3 linked regions of the Homo sapiens genome follow. The protein of the gene in region 1 interacts with the protein of each later gene in a pairwise test. Each region holds a gene or a part of one and is shown on either strand. Other genes may lie near its edges. The genes, in order: PLEKHF2, CEP44 and BCAS3.

The links.
Region 2: the proteins of PLEKHF2 (region 1) and CEP44 interact in binary tests that used the Homo sapiens proteins (3 or more experiments, as listed by UniProt).
Region 3: the proteins of PLEKHF2 (region 1) and BCAS3 interact in binary tests that used the Homo sapiens proteins (3 or more experiments, as listed by UniProt).

The regions. Positions count from the first base shown.
Region 1 is NC_000008.11:95,150,691-95,154,441, forward strand, and holds part of PLEKHF2 (pleckstrin homology domain-containing family F member 2), read left to right. Parts: intron 1-3,340; 5' UTR 3,341-3,354; coding exon 3,355-3,751. UniProt on the Homo sapiens protein: May play a role in early endosome fusion upstream of RAB5, hence regulating receptor trafficking and fluid-phase transport. Enhances cellular sensitivity to TNF-induced apoptosis.
Region 2 is NC_000004.12:174,286,895-174,290,645, forward strand, and holds part of CEP44 (centrosomal protein of 44 kDa), read left to right. Parts: intron 1-3,751. UniProt on the Homo sapiens protein: Centriole-enriched microtubule-binding protein involved in centriole biogenesis. In collaboration with CEP295 and POC1B, is required for the centriole-to-centrosome conversion by ensuring the formation of bona fide centriole wall.
Region 3 is NC_000017.11:61,387,815-61,391,565, forward strand, and holds part of BCAS3 (BCAS3 microtubule associated cell migration factor), read left to right. Parts: intron 1-803; coding exon of another isoform or gene 804-894; intron 895-3,751. UniProt on the Homo sapiens protein: Plays a role in angiogenesis. Participates in the regulation of cell polarity and directional endothelial cell migration by mediating both the activation and recruitment of CDC42 and the reorganization of the actin cytoskeleton at the cell leading edge.

The sequences.
Region 1 (3,751 bases):
ACATATCCATCCTTTCAGGTGATTTGTTCAAGGTAGTATTCCCTTATCTTCAGTATTTTTAGGGTTTGCAATGAAGGTCCAGAGGTTAGTTAATAGCTTCCTTAGAGTTCTTGTAGATTCAGTGGAGTTCTTAGGAACAATTAGTGTACCATAACATACTGTAACATCACAGAGAAATCAGATTTGAGGCTTGTTCTGCTGTGACAGCCTTGGGCAAGTTATTTAACCCCTCTTTGGCTGTTTACTCATCCATAAAATGGAGCTAATAGTGCATGTATCATAAGGTTGCTGTGAGGAGGAAATACAGTAATAAGTGCAAAGTGCTCAGCACATTGGTTGGACTCCCTATGAGTAGAGTTCATTCCAGGTTAAGTTTTGCTTTTACATTATTAAATATCTTTGTGCCTTAATTTCTTCATCAGCTCACAGTTCAGCTAATATTATTAGATGCTTCTTTGGGGGACAATAAAAACTTCTCTAGTAACTTCATAGGCATTTCAAACAGTTCAAATCAGAAAATAATATGAAAAGCACAGTACAAATTTATGATAGTATTAATTCTCATAGTAGCAATAATAGGAAATCTGTTTGTGTTGTATATGAGTTAATAACGATATGTTCAAATGGGTGGACTCAGTAGTTGATTCAGGTGGAGAGAAATAGATCCTTTCAGTTTTTTTTTTAAAGTGCCAATGTCTTTTCCTGTTTTAGGGCCTTTGCAGTTACTCCTTTTGTCTGGAATATTCTCCCCTATCCTTACCCCTTCTTATGTCTGTCCATCTAGTACAGCTGAAATGACAACATTGTAGAAAGGCCTTTCCTGACCATGTAGTCTGAATAGCTCTCAGTTTCTTTTAAAAATCACTTTAAAAAAAAAATCATAGCATTGATTAGTACTAGATTTCAATTTTGTTTTCTCTTTCCTTCTCTCCAACTAGAATGTAAACCCTGAAGAGCAGGGACCTTGCCTGTATTGTTTAATTTATTATTTTTTAAAATTTTTATCTGTTGTCACATACTCAAGTATGATCGCCTGTGGTGTTTATTTTTACTTTTCCTGCACCTAGATCCTAAGTGCCTGACAAATACTTGTGGAATGCTTGAATATAATGTAAAGTATGAAAAAATGATCCATAATTATACTTTCCAGAGATAAATTACCATTGTTGATAGTATAGTATATATTTTTTAACTTTATGTTGTGTGTGTGCTTACAGATACAGATGTCTATGATTATGCTTTTGAAATATGTATTCCATTGAGTCTAAAGATAAACATTTTTTACTATATGTATTTGAAATTGGTCTTATAATCAACGGTATGCTGTGGTTTAATTGGCAACATTTTTCTCTTTATGAGTTGCACATAAATATGTCTTAAAATCTATAGCACCTTAGATGTGATGAAATGTGGTATTTATTTGAAATAAAAATGAGATCAGGAAGTTCATCTCTTTTCCCCACCTAAAGATCTTGAGCATTTCCCTTGTCACTGGTTTTAGATCTGTCTTATTCTCAAGATATATGATTAAGGGTGTGTCATAACTTTTTCAATCAGTTCCTCTTGATGGCTATTTGGAGCTTTTCCAATTGTTTTCCTGTTATAAACAATGCTGTGCTGATTATCCTTGTATATATCTCTATGCACGTGAGTGAAATTTATTTAATTAGATTGGTGAATACACATATTCTCTGTAGTGTACAAGGGTACCTATTTCCCTATACCTTTATGAGTACTGAATCTTAGTAAATTTAAAAATTTTTATTAATCTAAGTGAAAAATATACTAATGTTTAATATAATTTCTTTAATTATGATAGAGATTGAAACCTCTTTTCCTGTTTATTAGCCGTTTTTATTTCCTTTTCTGTGATGTACTTGTGCATAGGATAGTAGGCTTTTAATTGGCTGGCATATTAGTCCTAATTAGAAACCTTTCCAGTTTGGAACCATGCATTATCCTATTAATTCTTGGGAACAACTTTTAGGCCTGCTACATCCTACTTTTGTGGAGGACAAGAGGGCTTTATAAGGACCCAAGATTTGCAGGGAGACAGAATTCAGAAATAACCAGAATTCTAGTGTCCTTTATAATGAAGGCCAAGAAGGGCTATAGTGTCAGTTTTTGAGCTGAATACTGGAACTTACATACTATGCTGTTAGTCTTTAAACTTTAAATGGTCTTCTTCTCAAGGCTTGTTGTTCTTTAATATGACTTGGTTATAGTATAGTAGTATTAGTTTAGTAGGTTTGAAATAGGATACAACTCTGGGACTTGAGTGAAGTCAATATTGGACTTAGAGATTAAATGTTTAGATTAATAGGGTGTTTTGCACATTGTTAAAATGTTATTAACATTTTTTAGTACCTTTTCTGTGTCAAACCGTATCAGTTTCAAACAAAACTATCAGATGATCTCTGCTTTTTAGGTTCTGCATGGTCTCTGGAGGAACAGATTTCAGTCCTTTGGTAAAAGTGAAGCTAGAATATACATGGAATATGGATAGCTCACAGGAAGGGTTTTAGTCTAGCATGGGAGTTTAAAGGAGGCTTCCTGGAGGAGACACGATTACCTAAACTAAGTCTCGAAGGATGAATATGAGTTAGCTGCAGTAGTAAGTAGTAAAAGGAACAACAGTGAAATGGACTACAAGTAGTAGAGTGTTCTTAGAATATGACATTTGAGGTGAAGACTGACTTATGGTGAGGTTGGAGTGACAAGAACCAAGTAATGAAAGGCCGTGAACACCCTGTATTTAATAGGTTAAGGGATCATTTTGAGCAATGATGGGGTCAAATTAGGGTTTTAGAGATCACTGCCCAAAGATTGATTTGGGGGCAAGATTGAAGGCCAGGACACATGTTGGGAAACAGTTCTAGTAATCCAGGTGAGAGAATTAAGGCTGTAGCTCAGTGGTAATAGCTTACTTGGAAAATTGTAGTCATTTTTCTTAGTTTATGTAACATTTTGTTCCCTATTGTTCAGAATCCCATTGAGATTACATTTCATTGAATGGGGTTTATTATTTTGCAGAGATAAGTTATGTTAATTATCCAATCGTCTTTCATTCAATTATGTCTGTAGGAAGTTTATACTTTTACAAATACCTGCTTAACTAGTATGGTGCTACGTGGAGATGATAAATAAGTGTTTTTCATCATTTTAAAAATTGAGAAATGTTAGCCCTTTTGATGTGCTTAGTGATTATCTTAGAGGGAAAGAATTTTAGAACATTTTGCCTTTGTGTAAAAGCAATGATTTGTTAGCTTAATTTATATATAATTAACTTATAGGAATTTATAATTTATATGTGCTAATTTCTTTTTCTTTTTTTTAAAAGGCTATTAGTGAAAGATGGTGGATCGCTTGGCAAACAGTGAAGCAAATACTAGACGTATAAGTATAGTGGAAAACTGTTTTGGAGCAGCTGGTCAACCTTTAACTATACCTGGACGAGTTCTTATTGGAGAAGGAGTATTGACTAAGTTGTGCAGGAAAAAGCCCAAAGCAAGGCAGTTTTTCTTGTTTAATGATATTCTTGTATATGGCAATATTGTCATCCAGAAGAAAAAATATAACAAACAACATATTATTCCCCTGGAAAATGTCACTATTGATTCCATCAAAGATGAGGGAGACTTAAGGAATGGATGGCTAATCAAGACACCAACTAAATCTTTTGCAGTTTATGCTGCCACTGCTACGGAGAAATCAGAATGGATGAATCATATAAATAAATGTGTTACTGATT
Region 2 (3,751 bases), on another chromosome or scaffold:
GCTTTTAGTAGGTATCACCAGTAAGTTTTCCAAAATAATTGTACCATTTACTCTTTCTGTAAAAAGCATAGATATTTTGAATTTCTTGCCTTTTTTTCTGTGTTCACCTTTTCTTCTTGGAAGTAGACAGCTGGCTAACCAGCAGGAGTTTGGGACCGATGACAGTGCAAAACATCTTGACTGACAATGGTGGTGGCTTATTAAAGTGAAGAATCAGCATCAAGAGGGGGAATCGGTGTATTCCTTCTATTTCTAGGCCATTGGGATATAGGTCGTTATGGGACCCCAGGTAGTAACCCAGCTCATTCTGAAATAGAGCTGAGAAATGACAAGGATTAAGTGTTGCTTTTCAGGTAGAGTGCTATTTTGGACCCTTGGCACAGATTTTGGTTCTTTATTATGATAAGTACCAAGAAGGAAAAGAACTGGGTCTATTAGAGAAAATTAATGAGGGGGATTAATTAGTTTGGGATCTAAGACTTATTTGAGGTGGTGACATTTAAGCAGGATGCCGAGGGGTATTAGCCAGATGGAGAATGGGAGAGGGAAGGAGTTGCTCTGTATCTCTTCAAGCTTGAAGAAATGGCATGTGCAAAGGTGTTGAACAGCTTGAGATATCACCAAACATCCTTATCCAGGTCCAGGAACTTTATCCCAGATACCATTTCTGTTATTTGTTGCTTTCTATAATATTTTAAATTAACTAAATCACACACATTCTCTTTTTCATCATTACTTGGTAAGTGGAATGTTTTGATTTTCCCTTCTGGTTATGATTTACATGTATTAACTTATTAATACACGAAGATCAAAAAGTGACCAAAATTGTTCAAAAGGTACAATTTATTATAGGATAATTATAATTATTTCATGCTGACAATATGTTTATAAGTGTTTTGCAGTAACCTTTTTGTTTCTATAATTTCATGGTAAGAAAGAAAATGAATTAGGTAGAGCTAGTAATACCAGGTATAGACAAGAATGTAGTATTTAAAGCTAATATCTGAAATTCTCTTCTTGCATCTGCTAACTGAACGAGAAAATTCTGTGTGTGAGAATGGAAAACTTTGGGTGAAAAGTGAAAACTTGGATTTTGTAGTCCAGGCCCTTAATTAAGTAGATAACACACTCAGAAGGAGAAAATTTGGGGTGCTTTATATACAAAGGGACTATTTTTAGAGGTGTGTGTACAGGGATCTGGTGCTGCTTCATTTTTTAACCTGTTTATTGCGGTATGATTGACATACAGAAAGCTATAGACATTTAATGTATACAGTTTCTGTTTGGAGATAAGTAGATATTGTGAAACCATCCAACCATTATTACTACAAGAAATCAATGCCATCACCTTGAAAAGTTTCCTTCTACTCATCTTTTTTTCACGTTTTGTGATAAGAGCACTTAACATTAGATCTAACTTCTTAGCAAAATTTTAAGAATACAATATTGCTAATCACAGACACTGGGTTGTACCTGCAGATCTTATTTATTTTGCCTAACTGAAACTTTGTACCCTTTGAACAACAGCTTCCCATTTTGTTCTCCCCATGTTCCCTTACAACCACCATTCTATTCTCTGCTTGCATGTATTTGACTATTTTAGATTTCACATACATTGAGATAATACAGTATTTGTCTTTTTGTGTTTAGCTTATTTCACTTAGCATAATGTCCTTCAGGTTCATCCATGTTGTTGCAAATGGCAGGATTTCCTTCTTTTTTAAAGGCAAATTTGTTTATTCTCACATTTTTGTTGGGGTCCCTAAGGTTTTCTACATCTAAGATCATGTCATCTGCAAACAGATATTGTACCTCTTCTCTTTTTATTTGGATGTTTTTAATTTATTTTTCTTACCTAGTTATTCTGGCTAGGACTTAAAATACTACGCTGAATAGGAGAGGCTAAAGTAGGCAACCTTGCCTTGTTCCTCATCTTATGGGGAAAGCTTTCAGTTTTTTATCTTTAAGTATCTTAGCTGTGGGCTTCTCATAAATGGACTTTATTTTGTTTTTCCTTTACCTAATTTGCTATAAGGTTCTTCCATACCTAGTTTATTGGGAGTTTTTATCACAAAAGAGTATCGAATTTTGTCAAGTGCTTTTTCTGCATCTGTGCAGATGCCCATGTGAGTTTTATCCTTCATTCTATTAATGCAGTATATTACATTGGTTGGTTGTCATATGTTGAACCATCCTTGCATCACAATGAAAAATCCTACTTGGTCATGGTATATGATTCTTTTAATGTGCTGTTGTGTTTGGTTTGCTAACATTTCATTGAGGATTTTTACGTCTATATTCATCAAATGTATTAGACTGTAGTTTTCTTGTAGTGTATTTGTCTGGCTTTGGTATCAGGGTGATGCAGGCCTCAGAATGACTTTGGAAGTGTTCCCTCTTCTTTTTTTTTTTTTTTTAGATATGTTTAATAAGGTTTTGTATTAATTTTTCTTTAAATGTTTGCTAGAATGTATCTGGCTCTTGGCTTTTCTTTGTTGGGAATTTTTTGATTATTCCATCAATCTCCTTTTTTGTTATTTGTCTATTCAAGCATTCTATTTCTTCTTGATTCAGTCTTGGTAAGTTATATTTTTCTAGGAATTTACCCATTTTTTTTTAGATTGTCCAATTTGATGGCATATAATTGTTCATAATAGTCCCTTATGATACTTTTTATATCTGTGGGATCAATTGTGTCCTCTTTCATTTCTGATTTTGTTTGAGTCTTCTATTTTTAAAGTCTAGCCAAGGATTTGTTGATTTAGTTTGTCTTTTCAAAAGAGGAACTTTTAGTTTTGTCAATTTTTAAAATTGTTTTTCAATTTTCTATTTCATTTATTTCTAATCTAATCTTTATTATTTTCTTCCTTCTGCTAATTTTGGATTTAGTTTGTTCTTTTTCTAGTTCCTTGAGGTGTAAAGTTAGGTTGTTTTATTGAGACCTTTTTTTTTTTTTCTTTGAGACAGAGTCTTGCTCTGTCACCAGGCTGGAGTGCAGTGGCGTGATGATCTTGGCTTACTGCAACCTCCGCCTCCCGGGTTCAAGTGATTCTCCTGCCTCAGCCTCCCGAGTAGGTGGGAGTCCCAAGTAGGTGGGACTAGAGCCACGCACCACCATGCTCAGCTAATTTTTGTATTTTTTGTAGAGATGGGGTTTCACCATGTTAGCCAGGATGGTCTCAATCTCTTGACCTAGTGACCCGCCTGCCTCAGCCCCCAAAAGTGCTAGGATTATAGGCGTGAGCCACTGTGTCCTGCCTCTTTCTTCTTCTTAATGAATTTATTGCTATAAACACTTCTCTTATTCTGCTTTTACTGCATCCTATATGTTTGGGTATACTGTGTTTTTATTATTGTTTGTCTTGAGATATTTTATAATTTCTGTTTTGATTTATTCTTTGACCCAGTATTATTTAATAGTATGTTATTTAATTCCCCTGTATTTGTGAATTTTTCCATTTTCTTTCTATTATTGATTTCTAGTTTCATTCCCTCGTGATCAGACAAAATGTTTAGAATGTTTTTAGTCTTCTTAAATTTGTTAAGACTTGTTTTGTGACCTAGGCTGTGATCAGTTATAGAGAATGTTTCATGTCCTTTTGAGAAGAATGATTATTTTGCTATGGTTGGGTCTCATGTTCTGTATATGCATGTTAGGTCTTTGGTCTATAGTGTTGTATAGTTTGCAATTTACTTGTTGGTATTCTGTCCGGATGACCAGTACATTATAGACAGTGACGTATCAAAGTCT
Region 3 (3,751 bases), on another chromosome or scaffold:
TTCCTTGGTTTTGCTCTCTGCAATGTGGGTATATAGCTCCCACCACCCAGGGGACCACATCCCTGGAGAGTGCAAGGTCACAATGAGGTGACTGGGTCTAGCCACTTGCCTGGAAGCCACTCCTCCTCTCCTGCCCTACTTTGGGGCCTGGAGAACAAGCTCTTTTAAAGCTTCTCCCACTGACCAGAATCTCCACACCTCTAAGGGGGGAGGTGGCTGGGGACACTTCCCTCATTTCCTGCCACAGAGCCCCCAGCACTCTCTTTCGGGCCCTGGCAGGTTCCTGATGGACTTCCCCAACAGGTCCACCTCAACCGCAGGACAGCTGCTCAGACCTGGAGGTCTTGGGAGTGGGGGAGGAGGGCAGCAGCCAGGAGTTGGGCCACTGAGTCAGAAGGTCCAAGGGCATCCCTGAAAACTGCAGTCTGTTTCCCTGTCCTCCTCCAGCAACCCACCTGCATGGGGTCCCATCTGGCACTGCATGGGCCGTAGGTCCCCAGCCCTCCCACTTCCTAAAACTGTTCTTCATGTTGAACCTGTGACTCCTCTCCCCCTCCCCCACTCTGAACGGGGTCTTGGCCCCCTCTGTCACAGCAGATCCATCTCTGGGACCCCCAAGACAGATTGGTCCCCAGCCCCTACACATGCATGTCACTGTCCTCCTTGACTGCAAACTCCCCCTCCTCACGGTGTGCCCCTGCGCCTCCTGACACCTCTCCACCTGCTTGCAGAGATCAGTGTACTTCTCAATCGTTGTCCATATCTTTTCCAAAAAGATTCCTCAATGCTTTTCTTTTCAAAAGGGAAAAAAAAAGGAAAAAAAAAACAATGCCAACAGCCCAGCGTCCGTGAGCAACCCAACAGTAACAAAGCATGCGTTCGGGATGGAGGAAGGTAAGGCCACACGTTTCCATTTGCCGCTTGCTCGTAGGGCTGGGCGGCCGGGATGACTTGGAGGGGGGAATCTGAGCAGCCCTCCTCCCCTCCACTTCCCACACACACCCCTGCCTGCAGGGGGAGGAGCAGAAGGGGTCTGAGAGGAGGCGTGGAGAAAAGCGCCCACAAAGCTGCCCCGGGGCCAGCAGGCCCCCGATTCTTTCAGTTAGTCTGTGTTGAAGAATGGGCCCCCACCTCCCCTTACCACATCATTCATTCATTCATTCATTCATTCATTCATTCATTCATTCATGCTAGAAATGTTTAGGGCACCCATGATTTTCCAGGCCACTAGGGATACAGAGTTAAGGCACAGAACCCCCCCGAGGGGGTCTCCCCTAGATGAGACACATGGGACGATGAGGGGGCCTGGGCTAGGAGTCAGCACAGCGCAGGGTAGGGTCTGGCAGGCTCTGCTCGGGGGACAGGACGGGCTCACAGAGGAGTGGACACTCGTGCTAAGCTTTGGAAGATGAGTAGGTGTTCTGGGGCTTTGTAGAGCAAGTTACATGAACACAGGCCCAGAGGCCTAGAACCACCTGGATGGGTCCAAACACCACACAGCTTCATCACTTTTGTGTCTCAGACATAATAACGGGTATCACTAGTGAGGGGTTGGCGGCAGGTCATGGAGGGCCATTTCACAGTGCTGGGGAGTTCAGACCTTGCCCTGGGAACTGTTAGGAGTGGCTGAAGGCTTTTACGCAGAGGAAAAGCAAGATGAGGGCTGTGCTGTACATAGCCCACTCTGGCTTTGGCACAGGGTGGGTGACCTGGAGTCAGGAGACTGAGGCGCACAGGGCAGGCTTAGCCAGGGCAGAGGCAGAGGAGGGAGAAGTTCAGCAGAGCCTTGGTTACCTTACCCTGGGATGCGGGGGCGAGGGAGAACGCTGCCCCCATCCTTCTTACCCGGGTCTAACTGGCAAAGGGAAAATGCGAGCAAGGCGCTCAGGTTGTCCCTGGCCCCCAAGAACAGGACATTCATCTTGTAAGCCCCTGGGTGGCTTTCCCTGCACTGTGGTGTGATGGGCTGGGGTGCATCCACGAAGACTCATTGGTGGGACCACCGAGGCTGCTGGGGTATTTGCTGGGGGCCTATGCCAAGGGACGGTGGGGGTGCCATGCCTGGGCCCGGGCTCCCGTTTCCTGGCTTCCTTGGCAGTGTGGATGTGGAGGCATTTTGCATCAAGGCCGTTAAAGCTGCCCCTGAGCTGTAAAAAGGGGCCAGCCTTCCCCATCCTGGTGGCCCTGCCTGCTCCTTCCTCGGGGGCTTTCTTCCTTAGGCCTGGCGGCCCGATCCTAAGGAAGCCCCTGCTTTTCTTGCGCCTGCCGGTGCTCTTCTCCCGCCCGCCTGGCCCTGCTGTCAGCGCCCCCTAGTGCCGGGCCGGCCGCGCATGAGGGCGGTGGGACAGATCGCCCACAACTCCTCGGCTTGCTTTTGGGGAAATAAGGCAACAGAGGGGTCTCTTGGAGTCTGGAGCTTCCATGTAAAATCCCCAGGGTCTACTCTTGGCTTTACCACCCTCTCCATCTCATGGCACGATGGCCTGTCCCCCCAGATTAGGGTGATACTGAAGGAGGAGCAGGAGAAAAAGATCCTATCTGCCTTGTTTTCTATCCATATCCAGATAGCTCTTGACTTTCCCAGGCAGCCAATGTCCCCTGGAGGTCAGGGACCATAGTCAGGCCCTCGGTCCCTGTCCACAGTCCCATCCCCCTACTTTCCCCAATTTGCCAAGAAGCCCTGGTGTCCCAGTGAACTGTCCCACCGAGACCCCGGCGACAGACTCGGCTGATGGATCCCAAGGGCCCCTCCCCTCCCCAGGCCCAGGTGCCCGCCTCCTCCCCACTCCACTCTGTGGCTGCTGCAGGCCTGCAGGGAGTCGGGGTCAGTGGTTCGTTGCTGGCTGGCTGGTGTTGGCCAGCCCAGGAGTGAAGGCCATGACCCCTTCATTCCCTAACCAGAGCCGGCTGTACTGCGCGTGTGGTGGCAGGGGGCCTGGGAGCGGTTGCAGGATGAAGACCAAGGTCTCAAGCCAGACCAGACGAGTGCAACGTTTTTGCACATCTTGCTGTTTCAAGTGACTGCTTTGAGGTCCTGCACTCCTGGGTGGACAGGCCAGACTCCTTCAGTCACAGGCAGGCATCCCTTGGAGAAGGAAAGGTTGCAGGTCTACATATCTTGGCTTGGGGCAGGCTCCAGAGACTGCCCGGTGTGTGTGTGCCCATATGTCAGAGCCCCCGGGGGAGACTGAAAGGGAATCGGAACTGACCACCTTCAAAAAGCCAAGAAGTAATTGGTTCTTCCTTGCACTCAGCAAGCAGGGAATTCCATTCCCAACCCACCTACCCCAGGACCTGACTTGGGTCAAGAGATGGTAGGACAATTGAGCGGCCCACAGCTGAATTAGATGGATCAAGCTGCCATATCTGAGGTGGCAACATGGATGTGCAGGGCCAGGGAGGCAGAGGAGGAGGAGGGCGGGACTCCCTGCCTGCCCTTCAGGTTGATGCTGAGGGGCCTCCAGGAGACTTGGGGCCTAAGAGGAAAGGAGAAAGGAGGCACTTCAGGCAGACAGGGACCCTCTCTTCATTGGAGCAGGCCCCTCTCAAACCAGGCATCCCCTCCCAGGGAAACAGGACACTTGGCAGGAGGTGCCAAAGATGAGCCAAGACCTGGCCAGCAGATGGACTGTGTGGGTGAGCATGAGTGAATGAGTGAGTGGCAAAGCCAGGCAGAAGCTCTAGGCACAGGCAGGGCAGGAGAGAGGTGGGGACAGATCAGGCAGGGATGCTGCAAGCCCTCCCGTGTCCT